Linked DNA regions of Homo sapiens. The protein of the gene in region 1 purifies or fractionates together with the protein of each later gene. This does not show direct contact. Each region holds a gene or a part of one and is shown on either strand. Other genes may lie near its edges.

Region 1 (3,224 bases):
GTTCCCACTGCTACTGTGCTTCTTCACTTACCTAATGGTCAGTTTGGGGGTCCTTTGGCCCCTCTCAAGTCACATAAGGGAGGCAACAGCCTTGTCTTTTGGGGACCAACATGACCTGGGAATAGACAAGTTCCTTTCAAGTCTGTAGTCATTTTTGATTGCCATCTATGCAGCCTTTTCTTTTTCTTTCTGTTTTTGTTTTGATGGCTGCCTATGGGTATTGGAGACTTAAATTTCTTTTACTTATATAAATCAAGAGTAAAAAATACCTAAAACAAAGACTCTATCGATTATATATTTGAGGAAAACCATGGGCAAGCATAAGGAAAACCATGGGCAAGCATAAGGATGCAGCATTCTGCAAGCAGGTACCATGAACACATGTATAAAATTCATTACTTCTTACCTGAATTGTCTGGTGAAGATGATTTTCTCTTTTGGCTTCATACTGCTTGCTTCGTAGACATTGTCTCTGGTTTTCCATAATTAAGAGTCCAAAGTTGTCCAGAAATAACATTTATTAATCAACAGTAAAACACACAATAGAAAAGGCCTTATAAATAAAACTATATATTTATAATGCTTTATTTTTTTGGTCCAGTACTCCACAAAACACTACAGACAGTAACAAAATAATTCAATAAATATTAAAAACTTTCAATAGAATTATAGGACACTTTTTTATCATATGTGAGCATCAACAATGCCACAGCCATTAGATATACTATTAAACACAGTCATAGATATCTTTCTTGAATAATGGACATAATAAATTTTTTATCAAGGAGTCATAACATTTACACATATCCATACACAAGATAACAGCTCAGAGGAAATGAAGCAGACTCCCCAGTGACCTGGTTTCATCTGCCTGTACATCATTTAAAGATATTACAGTGTTAACAGGATAGAAGTCAACACACTGAAGAGAAATGTTGGGATTTGCTTGGGGTGGGAGGAATGAAAGTAGGGTAATTAATGAAAGCAGCTTACATATTTTCCATTGCTCTCTTAGCAATATGCTCCCTTCCCTTTTCTGCCTTTTCTTGGTTGAGGTATTCCAGCACTTTCATTAACAGATCTTCATCCCAGTACTGCCTATTTGGGGTATCATCATTCTTCGGGGGCCCCACAGGGAACCTTTTGCTCACCGGGGCCAGCTTGTCAGTCTCCTGAGAGCTGCCTTGATTCAAATGCTCTTTGATGGCCTGCTCAATTTGTTCCTCTTCCTGCAGGTCATCTTCAGATGAGCCTTGACCAGGAACTCGCTTCACTTGGTTTGAATTAATGATCTCAGGGTATTTAACTAGCATCCTGGCCAAGTACTCACCTAATTCTTGATCCTTGTCGTTCAGGTTTTCATATGCCATCTGTCTGTTTTCAACATGTGGAATCCAGGCAGCTTTGGGAAGCTGGTTCGATCTAGATCTTCCAGCACCATAAGGGAGCCTTGGCAGAACTTTCTCCTGGTTATATGGATTGGGAAAATACGACGTTTTCTGATTTGCTGCACTCTCCATCCCTAAAAGATTTAAAATATCCTCAACACTGAGCCCGTCTGGTAGGGCCTCAGTCCCAGCACGACCAGGTGTTTTAGGGTAGCCACTCTTGGAGAGCATCCTATTTTGGAACAGGTCTGGATGGTCTAAGTCAGCCTCTGAGATGTCATCTAGGTCAACAGGAAGGTCAAGCTCCCGCTCCGGTTCCACTGATCCATTCGGCTTCTCCCCAGTTTTGAGCATCTCAATTAAGTCTTCTGGGGGTATCTGTAAATTCCTTGAGATTTCAATCAGCTGATAAATAGACTGAGAATCAAGAGGTTTCTCAAAAAGCCTGGTGGCCCTTTCCCCATTTTGCCCATTCTGTAACCTCCCACTTCCTGCAGCATTTACTAACCTTTTCAAATAGGCAATTACTTTGGAGACATCATCTGAGAGTTGGTCTTTACTCTCTTTCCGAAGATCTTCTTCCTGGATGCCAAGCTGCCCTGAGCGTTTCATCTCATCGTTGATTTGTTCATTTTTTTCTATATTCTCTTTGCTGTCTCTCACCTCTTCCTGGGTTTGACTCTCTATTTTCTCCTCTACTGGGTTCCAGTCTTCTCCCCCGACCACATCTTCATAGGCAATGTTATTAGCCTTGTAGATATCATCTTCATCATCCGTATAAAGTTTTTGCTCCTCATCCATCCTCTCACGTTTCTGGTTGTTTGGTCCTGTCAGTTTCCCCAGCTCTTGGAAGACAGATTCCAATGTAGCAAGGCTTTGAGGAGTATATTGTTCCTCCACTATTTCATTTGTGCGTTTAAAGGGGTTATCCCTGGAATTCTCTTCATACATAGGAGGGAATTGCATGTGCTTAAGCTTTCTTTCTGGCCACTGCTGTGTCTCATAATCATCACTCATGTCCATTGGAAAGTTCTTTTCTGAATTCAAGGCATAGGGCTTATTTTCTTTTGGTGCAGACTGAGGCTCATTTTCAGCCTGTCTCAAAGCTTCGAGTATTATTCTCATCCAGTCTTCTTCACTCAGTGAATCCCTCTCGGGCAAGTGGCTTTCATCGCCATTTTCTTTTTGCTGAAGGGGGACAGAGACACCTTGGTAGGGATTATAATCTGGGCTGCTTTCTTCCTTATGAGCTTGTTGTCGGAGGTTTTCTATGTACTCCAAAGCCCTGATCATTTCAGGACTGGGAAACTTTTGGACATTTTCCAACCTGAGGTCTGGTTCTTTCTGAAGCAGCTGGTTTCTCTGAAATGAAGCTGCTTCAGCCCCAGAGATGAGGAAAATTAAAGGGATAAGAGACAGGGCTGCTCCAAGCCAGTGGGTCTTTGCTTCAGCCATGTTTGAAAGATTTCCTTAAAACATAAAAAATATGAGTTACACAAATGAAACAAACTAGAAGACACTATAGCAAAAGAAATAATTGATCATTGAGGTGAGGAAAAAACATAGTAGATATTATTTCACATTAAGCTTAGGATAACTCTTTTTAAAAATTCATGAATATTTTCCACATGATTCCCACAAGCAAACCACAGGAATCTTTAGCAAAATTATTACTCATTCACCAAAAACTTGCATAGCATTCTCTTAGTTAAAACAACAGCAAAAACACTGATATGAGATTTCTTAAATTTTATTTTTTCATTTACAGAACTTGTAGTTTGATGTTTAGTACATGTTGTTTCTCTATAATAAAGCAGCAAATACTTCCCAAGATGT
Region 2 (3,802 bases), on another chromosome or scaffold:
GTTAAAAGTTTGTTTTTCAAAGCAGGTAAAATTGGGAAAAGCAAGAATTTTTAAAGTGATATTCTTGAACATATTGATCAATTATAAGTTTTTAGGAAAACTTAGCAAGAAGACTCTAGCTTACATTCAGCTTCCACTGAATCTCAACTAATTCTAGTTGTTTCTTAAATATATTTATGAGTAAAGTATTTGGAACTTTATTTTTTAAAGCTATCTAATGCATTTTAATTACTGCATTTCAAATTGCTAAATTCCTTTCAATATTTAATGTAAGTATTAAATGTGACAATCATTTGAATTATTGAAGAAGAAAAAATATCTTTGGTGGTCATGTGATGATTATTGAAACATTATGCAGTACTTTTACTCATAAATTATTTATAGGAAGTAAGGAAATATTTTTAACTGGGAGATTATTGAGAGAATTTTGGTTGACTAAGCTATAGATAATTAGAATATTTCCATGTTATCAAGACATTATCACTATTGAGAAAAATGATTTGGTGTTAGATGTAACATCTGAAGGTTATGACTGTAGTTGTTCTGATAACAGCTTTTTCATTATTCTGGAGTTCAACGTTTCAGGAGTAAGGACTTAATTTGTTTCTGTTTTTGTTTTTTGTCCAATCTCTTTTGCATTTGCCATAGCCTAAGTCCAAATGTGTTTGTGAATATTGGGAATTGTCCATTGGGTGAATGTAGTAGATGGAAATGTCAGCTTAGGACCATGATTTCTATTATTTCCCTGCATAGAGATAGAGAAAATGATAAAGTATACTTCTGTCTATGCTTGCCTTGCTGTGGATACCTTTTTATGTAAATGTTTATCCCTTTACATGTCCTCCCTCATTTTTACTGATATCAAAGAAACGGACAATGGGAATATGAAAATTTGCTACGCTCCATCTCTGGTTGAACCTAATTGTCTGCCTTCTCTTAGTCTACAGTGGAATCACTGAATGATAATGAAGAAAGTTATGACCACAAATTTCAATGGGTGCTCAACACTGTGCATCAGAGCAGCCTCACACTGTTGCTCTCCAGCTGTACAAAATGACTATTTTACACTTTCATGTCTCTCAAACTTTAATACTTCCCTTCATCCCCGCCCCACTTCCAGATTCTAACCTTTCATTCACAATGAAAAGTACTCGTTTTCCTACTGTCAATAATTTCCCAGCTTTCCAACATCTGTACTCACATTGTGATAGAAGCAGAAAGCTCCTATCAAAAGCTAGTCAATGTAGTTGCTATCCCTTTCCAGCTTCTCAAAGATTTCGCCCCTTCTCTTGCATTATCATTGCCTTTTTTTGCCAAATTGTTTCTTTTGGCCTTAACATGCTCTTATTATCTCCTTTCTTTAAAAATTTTCTCTTAATTATCTCACATTCCCCTTCAGCTATTGCCTTATTTCTCTGCTGCTTTCGTAATGAGAATCCTCAGAAGAGTTGTTGATAGATGCTCTCTCCATTTTCTTGCCATCCTTCATTTATTTATTAACCAACCCCCATCTGCTTTTCAACCCCCTTTTCCTCTGAAACTTTTAATCAAAGTCACTAGTGACATTCACCAGTTTAAAGGATATTTCTCTGTTAGTACCTTACTAGATTTTTCGACCCGGTTGCATTTAACATAGGCTGTCACTCCTTCTTGAAACACTTTCCTTTCTTGGTATCTATGATATCATATTTGCCTATTTACTCTTATTAATTCTGGTGGGTTTTCAGTAACTGTTGTTCGTGTTTCTTGTTCTATCTCCTTCTGAATATTATAATCAAACCCCTTAGTTTGGGCTCTCTTCTCTTCTCTTTACATACACTCTTTCTCTGGGTGATTGTGTCAGTTCCTCATAGCTTTTAATATCTCCTGTAAATTCATGACTCACAAATATATATATCAGCAATCTGATCTTCTACCCTGAATTCCAGACCCTTATGCCTGATGTCTGACTGCTATTTTGACAGTATGTTTTTGTTATTGTTGTACATCTTTTTTTTTTTTTTTTTTTTTTTTTTTAAAGACAGTCTCACTCTGTCACCCAGGCTGGAGTGCAGTGCACAATCTCAGGTCACTGCAGCCTCCCCCTCCTGGGTTCAAGCAATTCTCCTGCCTCAGCCTCCCAAGTAGCTGGGATTACAGGTTCCTGCCACCACACCCAGCAAATTTTTGTATTTTTAGTAGAGATGGGGTTCCCCATGTTGGTCAGGCTGGTCTTGAACTCCTAACCTCAAGCAGTCCATCCGCCTCGGCCTCCCAAAATGCTGGGATTACAGGCATGAGCCACTGCACCCGGCCTATTGTTGTACGTCATAAATCTACATGTTCAAACTAAAACTTAATGCAGCCTCCTACCCTTCCTGTTCCGTAATTGGCTCCTTCTTGGTCCATTTGCTTATTTGAATAACCTGTGAGTTTTTCTTGATTCCTTCCTTTTCCTCAAGTCCCATGCCAGCTCATCAGCAAGTTCTTTTGTTCCTGTATCTAAACTATAACCTGGGTCTTTTCATCTCACCATCATTTCTTGTCTCCTAATTAATCTGCCTGTACCTACTGTTGTTCCATTATAATGTATTCTCCATGCAGGAGCCAGAATGAGTATTTTAACATGTTAAATCAGATTATATAACTTTGCTGTTTAAATCCCTTCAGAAGTTCCTAATTGCATTTGGAAATACAACTACAAAAGAAAAAAAAATCAAACTCCTCACTGTGGACGTATAAGAATTTATATGGCCTGCCCTTCCCTGTCTCTCTAGCCTCATCTCATTCAATTTTCTCAGTACTTGATGATTGTTACACTCTAGATGTACTACTGATTTCTTTCGGTTATCAGAGAATTTCCGTGCCAAATTCTGCCCTGCCCTGCCCTGCCCTCCCCCGCCCCACCCCGCCTCCACCCTGCCCCCACCCCCTCCCCTCCCCCCTCCCTCCCTCCCTTCCTCCCACTTGCTTGCTTTCTCTCTCTCTCTTTCTCTCTCTCTTTTCTTTCTTTTCTTCCTTCTTTTCTTTTCTCCTTCCTTCCTTTCTTTCTTTTTCTTCTTTTTAGACAGAGTCTTGCACTGTTGCCCAGGCTGGAGTGCAGTGGCGTGATCTCGGCTCACTGCAAGCTCTGCCTCCTGGGTTCACGCCATTCTCCTGCCTCAGCCTCCCAAGTAGCTGGGACTACAGGCGCCTGCCACCATGCCCGGCTAATTTTTTATACTTTTAGTAGAGACAGGGTTTCACCGTGTTGGCCACGATGGTCTCAATCTCCTGACCTTGTGATCCGCCCTCCTCGGCCTCCCAAAGTGCTGGGATTACAGGCGTGAGCCACTGTGCCCTGCCATTTTCTTTTCTTTCTCTTCTCTTCTCTTCTTCTTTCCTTCCTTCCTCCCTTCCTTCCTTCCTTCCTTCCTTCCTTCCTTCCTTCCTTCCTTTCTTTCTTTCTTTCTCTCTCTCTCTTTTGTTTCTTTCTGTCTCTCTCTCTTTCTTTCTTTCTGTCTCTCTCTCTTCCTTCCTCCCTCCCTCCCTTCCTTCACTTCTTCCCTCCCTTCCTTCCTTCCTTCTTTCCTCCATCCCTTCTTTCCTTCTCCTCTTTCTCCTTTTTCTCCTTTCCCATCTTTCTCTCTTTCCTGTCTTTTCTTTTCTTTCCCTCTTTCCTTCTTACACTTTGTTCTTAGTGTTATTCTCTGTATGCTTGGGAAGCCCTTGTCCTGGCTTATCACTTGGCCAACTTCCTTTTCCTTGAGTCTCAGCTCAAATGCCATATAAGACAAGTCTTTCATAACTACCCTAGGTAAAGTCCTCTTTCCTTTTTCTTCTT

The links. The genes of interacting proteins can lie anywhere in the genome.
Region 2: the proteins of SCG2 (region 1) and DCAF6 purify together in Homo sapiens (affinity purification with mass spectrometry; one large-scale study listed by BioGRID and IntAct). This does not show direct contact.

What each region holds. Positions count from the first base shown.
Region 1 is NC_000002.12:223,596,440-223,599,663, forward strand, and holds the end of SCG2 (secretogranin-2 precursor), read right to left. Parts: intron 2,858-3,224; 5' UTR 2,844-2,857; coding exon 990-2,843; 3' UTR 501-989; downstream 1-500. UniProt on the Homo sapiens protein: Neuroendocrine protein of the granin family that regulates the biogenesis of secretory granules.
Region 2 is NC_000001.11:168,005,974-168,009,775, forward strand, and holds part of DCAF6 (DDB1- and CUL4-associated factor 6), read left to right. Parts: intron 1-3,802. UniProt on the Homo sapiens protein: Ligand-dependent coactivator of nuclear receptors. Enhance transcriptional activity of the nuclear receptors NR3C1 and AR. May function as a substrate receptor for CUL4-DDB1 E3 ubiquitin-protein ligase complex.